Linked DNA regions of Homo sapiens: region 2 is linked to region 1. Evidence: fine-mapped expression QTL. Tissue or cell type: monocytes. Region 1 holds a variant in brackets; the other region holds the start of a gene. All regions are shown on one strand. Distances are from middle to middle.

The links. PIP is the estimated chance that this variant, and not a neighbour inherited with it, causes the effect. A credible set is the group of variants that fine-mapping cannot tell apart.
Region 2: DBNL starts here. The variant in region 1 is the best candidate, but not a certain one, in a credible set for the expression of DBNL in monocytes (TOPMed, PIP 0.86).

Annotation. Positions count from the first base shown.
Region 1 is chr7:44,087,811-44,092,048 of GRCh38, forward strand. No RefSeq gene overlaps it. Among named protein-coding and RNA genes, the nearest start is that of POLM, 7.4 kb to the left of the region's middle. The variant G/A (reference allele first, on the strand shown) is at 2,160.
Region 2 is chr7:44,042,498-44,046,735 of GRCh38, forward strand. DBNL (drebrin like) reads left to right here and starts at 2,205. Exons shown (of 13, transcript NM_001014436.3): 1 at 2,205-2,323. The coding sequence starts at 2,241. It overlaps LINC00957 (long intergenic non-protein coding RNA 957), which reads left to right. Exons shown (of 3, transcript NR_072982.1): 3 at 1,756-1,799. RefSeq lists a silencer at 2,245-2,464 and an enhancer at 2,403-2,903.

The DNA.
Region 1 (4,238 bases):
ACTTTCTAAAATTTCTGCAGAGGGCATGGATTGCTTGGAAGCAGGCAGGGAGGGAAGGAACATAAGTTTTTGTTCTCATTTTGTGGACGAGGAGCCTCTGTCTGAGCGGCAGAGCCAAGACACACACCCGGCCTCCCCTCCTGGCTCTGAGTCCGGAGTTCTCTCTGGAGATGTCCACGGTGCCTGCTCAGCCTGCTCCATGGCCTCCCCTAGGAGCACAGGCCCAGGGAATGCTGTGAGAGAGGGGAGGGTGAAGGCAGGCCTGGGCAGCAGTGGGCAGGGCCCTGGCCTGGGTGGGTGGGTACCACAGGCTGCTGTCAGGAAGTAGAGACCTCAGCCCTCTGTTTTGGGTGAGCTGTTCCAATAAACTTGGCTTAGGGATTCCCAGAAGTCCAAGTCCTCAGCCTCCTGCTCCCTCCTCTGACACTGCCTCCCAGAAAGTCAGGAGGCTGCCCAGCCACCCTCGTGGCGGGACACCTTCCGGCCAGGCTGGGCCCTTTCCGCTGCCCTGAGGCTGCAACCTCCCTCCCTGCTCCCACCGAGCCATGACTATTCCTGCCCATCCCTTACTTATGTTTTCGATTATTTTTGCCCAGATTGAGTTTGCATTTTTCCAAGATGAATCTCATCTTGCTGTTTCCTGTTCCCACTTTCAGCTCTAGACGTCCCTCGGGGAGATACCTCAGTGCCCACGACCTTTGCACCCCCCTCCCCACCTCGCCCCCGCTGTGGCACACCTCTCTCCAAGCTCCCTTTGGTGCTGTTTCCACCCGTGTGCGTTCTGTCCAGAGGCCTGCGGGGACCAGGACGTGGCCCTGCTTGGGGGCCTGCCCCTGCTGCCCTGGTTTCCTCCCTCCCGTGGGCTGCTTGCCAGCAGCATTTGGGAGAGTGTGTGGCCAAACTGCTGATGCTGCTGGCCCTGAGCTCCTGAGGGCTGTTGGCCCCAGCAGTGCTGGCCCTGGGCCTTCTCTGATCTATTCCTGCACATTGCTGTGGCTAAGAGTAACCTGGTATATTTGTATCCCATGACCGCTATAACAAATTATCACAAACTAGGTGGGTAAAAACAACAGAAATTTATTCTCTCCCAGTTCTGGAAACTACAGCCAAAACTCCAGCTATCAGCAGGGCCACCCTTCCTTGAAGGCTCTAGGGGGGATCCCTCCTCGCCTCTTCAAGCTGCTGATGCTCCTGGTGCTCCTTGGCTTGTGGCAGCATCACTCCACCCTCTGCCCCGCCTGCAATGGCCTCCTTCCCTCTGGGCCTGCTCTGTGTCTGTCTTCTCCTTCTCTCTCTCTTTTTTTTTTTTTTTTTTTTTTTGAGATGGAGTCTCGCTGTGTCACCCAGGCTAGATTACAGTGGTGCCATCTCGGCTCACTGCAACCTCTGCCTCCCAGGCTCAAGTGATTCTCCTGCCTCAGCCCCAACCAGTAGCTGGGATTACAGTTGCCTGCCACCATGCCAGGCTAATTTTTGTATTTTTAGTAGAGACAGATTTTCACCACGTTGGCCAGGCTGGTCTCGAACTTCCGGGTTCAAGTGATCCACCCGCCTCAGCCTCCCAAAGTGCTGGGATTACAGGCATGAGTCACCATGCCTGGCTGTCTTCTCCTTTTCTTATAAAGACACTAAGACACTAGTCATTGGATTTAGGCTTTTTTTTTTTTCTTTTTTTGTCATCCAGGCTGGAGTGCAGTGGCACAATCATAGCTCACTGCAACCTCATACTCCTGTGCTCAAGTGATCTCCAGCCTCAGCCTCCTGAGTAACTAGGACTACAAGCGTGTGCCACCATGCCTGGCTAATTTTTGTATTTTTTGTGGAGATGATGTCTCACTATGTTGCCCAGGCTGGTCTCAAACTCCTGGCTTCAAGTGATTCTCCCACTTTGGCCTCCCAAAGTGCTGGGATTACAAGCATGAGCCACCTTGCCTGAAAGACCATCCCAACTCAGGATGATCTCATCTCAAGATTCTTATTTTTTTTTTCCTTTTCTTTCTTTTTTTTTTTTTTTTTTTTTGAGATGGAGTCTCACTCTGTCACCCAGGCTGGAGAGCAGCAGCATGATCTTGGCTCACTGCAACCTCTGCCTCCCATGTTCAGGCAATTCTCCTGCCTCAGCCTCCCAAGTAGCTGGGACTACAGGCACATGCCACCAC[G/A]CCCGGCTAATTTTTGTATTTTTAGTAGAGATAGGGTTTCACCATATTGGTTAGGCTGGTCTTGAACTCCTGACCTCGTGATCCACCCACCTCAGCCTCCCAAAGTGCTGGGATTACAGGCATGAGCCACCGTGCCTGGCCAATATTCTTATCTTAATTACACCTGAAAAGACCCTTACACCAAATAAGGTCACATTCTGACATTCTGGGTGGAAATGAATTTGGGGGGCCACCCTTTAACCCGCTGGCCTGAGTCCCACTTTGCCAGGGATCAATTCTGGACTCTGTGACCTGGGGCAAGTGGCCAGCCTTTCTTTATTTGTGTAGATCCATCAGAGCTGTGGGATTCGTATTTTTGACAGTAGATGCACTAGTGGCTTGCCTGGGACCTGGCTGGTTATATAACAAAAAGAGACGCTTTATTTTTGAGAAACCATTACTGCCTTTTAAGGAGTGTGTGCATTGCCGCTTGCTGGATGGGTTCCATATAAGAACCGGTGGTGGCGGGGGTGGTGGGGAGAGGGTAGTTGGAAGCCTGGGACAGGACTCGGAGTGGGAAGACTGGGCCAGAGGTCCAGAGAAGAATTCCCAGCTCCCTGCCAGGGGATTTGGCTGCAGAATTCCTTATGGAGGAGCGAAGTGTCCTTAAAATGAAGGCTGTTTGGGTTCATCTGTTTAACCAGCCCAGGCTCAACCAGCAGTTCAGGTATGGCTGGCAATGGTGAAGGGTCCAGGGGGCTAAGAAGGCTTATGAGAAGAGGGATGTTTGCTGACCTCAACTCTACCACAAGGTGACAAAATTGTCCACTGTTTCCATCATGAATTATTTCATTTAAGTTAAGGGAAGACTATAATGTCATTACATTCCTGGATAAACAGACCCAATGTCATTTATTTAGTATTTTCCCATTTGCCACTGTCATTCTTGAAATAAAATAGATCCAAACATGGGGAGTTCCATTTATTAGCACCAAGGAGAAGCCCTGGGCTAGAAAGTTGCTGGAAGCCCCAAGGCTGTCATGGATGCTGTTTCTTGGGATGGAGAGTCCTGAGAGGCTGGACGTGCTGCCTGGTACATGGAAGGTCAAGGAGGAAGGAGGGTTGGAAGCCAGGAGTATGGCCATGGAGGGAGTCTCCAAAGTCCTAGTCAGGGGTGGAACCCAGACCGGAAGTTGGGGTAGAAGACAGGGATGGGAAGTGACAGCTGCTAACATTTATGGAGGGCGAGAAATAGGCCAAGGACTGTGCTAATTATTTTTTATGCTGTATTTTTGTTCTTTTTCCAATTATATGGAATTGGCACTACTGTCATTTTTTTCTATCTTACAGATAGGGAAACTGAGATTTTGAGCTAAAATAATGTTGCCAAAGTAGTCACACGCATAAGAGGCAGAAATGTGATTTCAACAGTGGATATTTGACCACAGAGCCATCCTCCTAACCATTCACCCAACAGAAGTGTGTTGAGGCGCGGTGGCTCACCCCTGTAATCCCAGCACTTTGGGAGGCCAAAGGGGGCTGATCACATGAGGCCAGGAGTTTGAGACCAGCCTGGCCAACATGGCAAAACCCCATCTCTACTAAAAATACAAAAATTAGCCAGGTGTAGTGGTACATATCTGTAATCCCAGCTACTCGGGAGGCTCAGGCACGAGAATTGCTTGAGCCCGGGAGGCGGAGTTGCAGTGAGCCGAGTTCACACCACTGCACTCCAGCCTGGGCGACAGAGTGGGACTTTGTCTCAAGAACAAACAAACAAACAAAAAGGTGTGTTGTGTGCCTGGCTTTCTTCTAAGTGCAGGAGGTATAGCAGATAAGACATACAGAAACCCCTGCCTCATGACATTCCTGTGGGGCAGGACAGACAATTCCCTAGGGAGGACATGGCCTATGCTGGGTATGGTTGGTTATAGCAAACATGGCTGCAGGAGTCCCTTCCATCTGTGACCCTTCCGCAGAGTGACTTTGATGCTTCCCCCAGCAAGAGATGGGGTTAGGCCTCCCCTTGATTCTGGGCTGGCTCTGGGACTTGCTTTGGCCAACAGAATATAGCAGAAATGACATCTTGGCACTTGTGGG
Region 2 (4,238 bases), 45 kb before region 1:
CTTTGTTATAGCAGCACAAAACAAACAAGACAACAAGCAACAATCATGTGAACAGAAAGAAAAATGGGCATAACAAATGAACCATGTTTTTGTCCAAATTAGGTTCACAAGCCCTTATCTGCACCATCCAGACTCAAACACCTTAAGATTTTGGTAGTTCATTTGGTAGCAAAAACTGACCTTAATTGTCATGAGGATATTTAGAGTCGTCTTATATTCCACTTAGCTGATTATTCACACATATCACACACTTAGCTGATTATTCACACATATCACAGCAAAAGCATGAACATGTCTGATTACCAGTTCCTGTCCAGATCCTGTGATAAGGGCTTACCCAGGACATACATGGTATAACTTTTCTGAAATCTTAGATTGAATTCCAAAGCACATCTGGACTTAAGGGATTGTGGATATATACATATATATACTATATGTATATATATACACATATGCATATATATACATATGTGTATATATATACATGTGCATATATACATATACATATGCATATATAATATATGTATACATATACATATGCATATATATACATATGCATATATACATATACATATGCATATATACATATGCACATATACATATACATATGCACATATATACATATGCATATATACATATGCATATATACATATATGTATACCTATACCTATGCATATATATACATATATGTATACCTATACCTATGCATATATATACATATATGTATACCTATACCTATGCATATATATACATATATGTATACCTATACCTATGCATATATATACATATATATGTATACCTATACCTATGCATATATATACATATATGTATACCTATACCTATGCATATATATACATATATGTATACCTATATCTATGCATATATATACATATATGTATACCTATACCTATGCATATATACATATATGTATACCTATACATATGCATATATATACATATATGTATACATATATACACACATAGTATATATACATATACACTATGTGTGTGTGTATATATATACACATATATATACTATGTGTGTGTATATATGTATATATATACTATACTTTTTTTGAGACAGAGTCCCGCCCTGTAGCCCAGGCTGGAGTGCAGTGGCGCTATGTCGGCTCAGTGCAAGCTCTGCCTCCCTGGTTCACGCCATTCTCCTGCCTCAGCCTCCCGAGTAGCTGGGACTACAGGCGCACGCCGCCACGCCTGGCTAATTTTTTGTTTTAGTAGAGACGGGGTTTCATCGTATTAGCCAGGATGGTGTCGATCTCGTGACCCCTTGATTCGTCCACCTCGGCCTCCCAAAGTGCTGGGATTACAGGCGTGAGCCACCGTGCCCGGCAGGATTTATATTTTAAGGAGGCAGGGGAGTTATTCTCCATGGGAGGAAATAAGCCGTGAGCTGCCTTGCGCTTTGGCATGTTTCTCTATCATACAGATAAGAAGCTAGTTCAGTCAAGTGTATGCAGATTTGTGGATGGAAAAACTGGTGCTCCCAGGAGGAGGGGAGCAGATTGAGGAATTACTGACACCTTCTAGGGGCGACCAGCCAGATGTGCAGGTGAAGCACAAGACAGGTTCTCTTCATGCCTCCACTATCCTGGCCTCGACCAAACTGCAGAGGGAAAAACTCAGGTGAGAGTGAGAAAGCACAGTCACTTTCAGTTAGGTTTGTAGCGGTGTGATCGTCACTTAGCACTCATTTATTCGTGTATTCATACATTTATGCATGTTTCTTTCACAGATCAAACTGTTGAGGGTCCACAAACAGGCTGAAGACCTCGTCTGGAGGGAGACTGCAGTGAACCCAAGATCGTTCAAATAAGCGCATCGACATAACAAGATTTAGAAAAGAATAAGCACGGTGCTGTGAGAGCAGCTAGCGGGGGCTGGACTGGGTCCCTGCGGCCAGGCTTCCAAGTCGAGCTGCCGTTTGGGTGGGACCAGAAGACGGGCTAGTCTGCGCCCCAGGATCCCTCCCTGAGGACAAACAGAAGGCCGGGTCCTCCCTTCTCCCGCTTGTCCTTCGGCATTCGCGGGACCTGCATGCTAGACCAGCTGGCCGGACAGCTCGCTAGGACCCGCGGGTGCGGCTGGCCCCTACCATTTCCGCTTCCTGCCGTGGGGCGGGGTTTCCGGTTGTCGGAGGCGAGGCTTGTCGGCTGTCAAAGGGGCGGCCCGGCCCGGCCCGGAAGCTACAGCAGCGGCGCGGAGACTGCGGGGCGGGCCATGGCGGCGAACCTGAGCCGGAACGGGCCAGCGCTGCAAGAGGCCTACGTGCGGGTGGTCACCGAGAAGTCCCCGACCGACTGGTGGGCGGCGAGACGGGCCAGGGTCGGGCCAGGGGCTGCCTCAGGGGTGGGTCTGTCTGGGGCGAGCGGGGGACTCGGGGGGAGCGGGAGCGCGAGCGCGGAGCGGTGCCCAGGCAGGTGGCCTGGGGCTTACCTGTCTGCCCCTCCACACCGCAGCAGGAGTGCTGTCTCACCCTCGTGACCCCTTGCCCCGCCGATCGTGGACAGGTTAAACCCGGCTTGGGGGGACCCAGTGAGTCCCCGCCCCTCCCCCTGTCGCTCGCCACCCACTGTGGGCTTCGCGGGCTTCCATGTTGGATCCTCGGCCTGGTCGTGCTTGCTAGCTTCGCCAGGTTCTTCTTTCCAGTCCTGGGACTTCCCTGGAGAAGGGGTTCCTGCACAGCCCTCTCTGAGAAGGCGGAAGCCACGCCCGGTTTTTTTGCAAACGCTGTGTTCGGGGATGGGCATTTGAGAGCGGCCTGGCAGCCGGGCTGTGAATGTGAGCCCTGCCCTGGGGGCTTCAGACGAGGAGCTCAGGGATCTGGGTTCTTGGCTGTCTGTGAACGTGGACTTCAGAACTTTCGTTTCTCCAAAAAGTGTACTCTTTCTTGTGCCTGAGCCATGGGAAGATGTACGAAAGTAGGATGCTCGCTATCTATTTGGGAAAAGGTCCCATTTTCCCTCTACCACCCAAGATATCCTCACTTTCCTCTTTGCTTAAATTGTTTTTACTGACCAGTTTTGAGAAATCCCAGTTCTGAGAAATATGCTGAGTATGGTGGGCTAAGGTGACCAACTTTGGGGAATAGAAACTGGGCCTTGGAGTCTGAGTCGTGGTGGGGCCACACTGTGGTCAGCACTGAGGCCCTCCCAACTGTCTTCCCCTTGTGTGGGGGCCATCTCCACTTGTGTAAGTGCTTTCTCATCTCCTCTGCTCTCCGTAGTGCCCAGCACAGAGCGGCTTTTATGCAGTGTACTATTGTGACCCTGAGGATGTTATGGCTTTGCTTTTTCCTCAGCCCTGGGCCATTAGGGGAAGAGCTTTAGAACACCAGTTGCTTGGTTCTATGGGGTCTCTGTAGACTCTCCTGTCAGGTCTGAGTGCCCTGGATGGCACTTATGCCAAACAGCACATCTTCTGTTTTGGAGGCATCTAAAGAAGGATATCTCGTCATTTCCTTGGTGGGGTTTTCTGCCTGCTTTATAATCCCTCAGATTTACCCACGTCAGTCAGTGTTATTTTTCTCAGGAGAGTTTCTAGATGTCAGCCCTCTGTTTTGCCTCTCTCCTATTCCTGTTCGTGTTTCTCTTAGACCTCTCCTGTTACTTCAAACCCAGTCAAAAGTATCTCTGCAATGAGTGCCCCATTTTCATGTCCACATCATACCACTTGGCTTTAGAACCCAGAAGAATCTTTGCCCCTCTTCAGCCCTGCCAAATTAAAGATTTTGCTTCTTAACATGCTCTTGATCACTCTGTTTACCCTGGCAGACTTACCTAGGAGCTTCCTGGCACTCCTCATCTATCTCCCTTCCAGGTCTCTCTTCATCATCAGTCTTCTCAGGAACCATCACTGGTTTGGGATGATGCCTCCCAGCCCACCTGGCAGTTTGGGCTTCCCTCTTCAGACCTCCTATGTTCCTAGCCTTTCCTTGGGCTGCTTACGAGAGCTGTCTGCTACCACTCCTGGCCCGGTGCTTACCCACCCCATCTACTCTCTGTCCCTCATGAGGGTTGTGGAGCCTCCTCTTTCCCCTCATGAAGTCAGAACCCACCCATCTCACTGGACTCATCTGCCCAGACAGCCATGCTATGCTCCCTCCCTACCTCCAGGCTCCTGCAGCACTACAGGTTGTGTCACTCAGCAGCATAACCCACTGACCTCCACCCTCATCGTCACAGCCATTAAGGTAGTTACTCAGCAGATACTATGTGG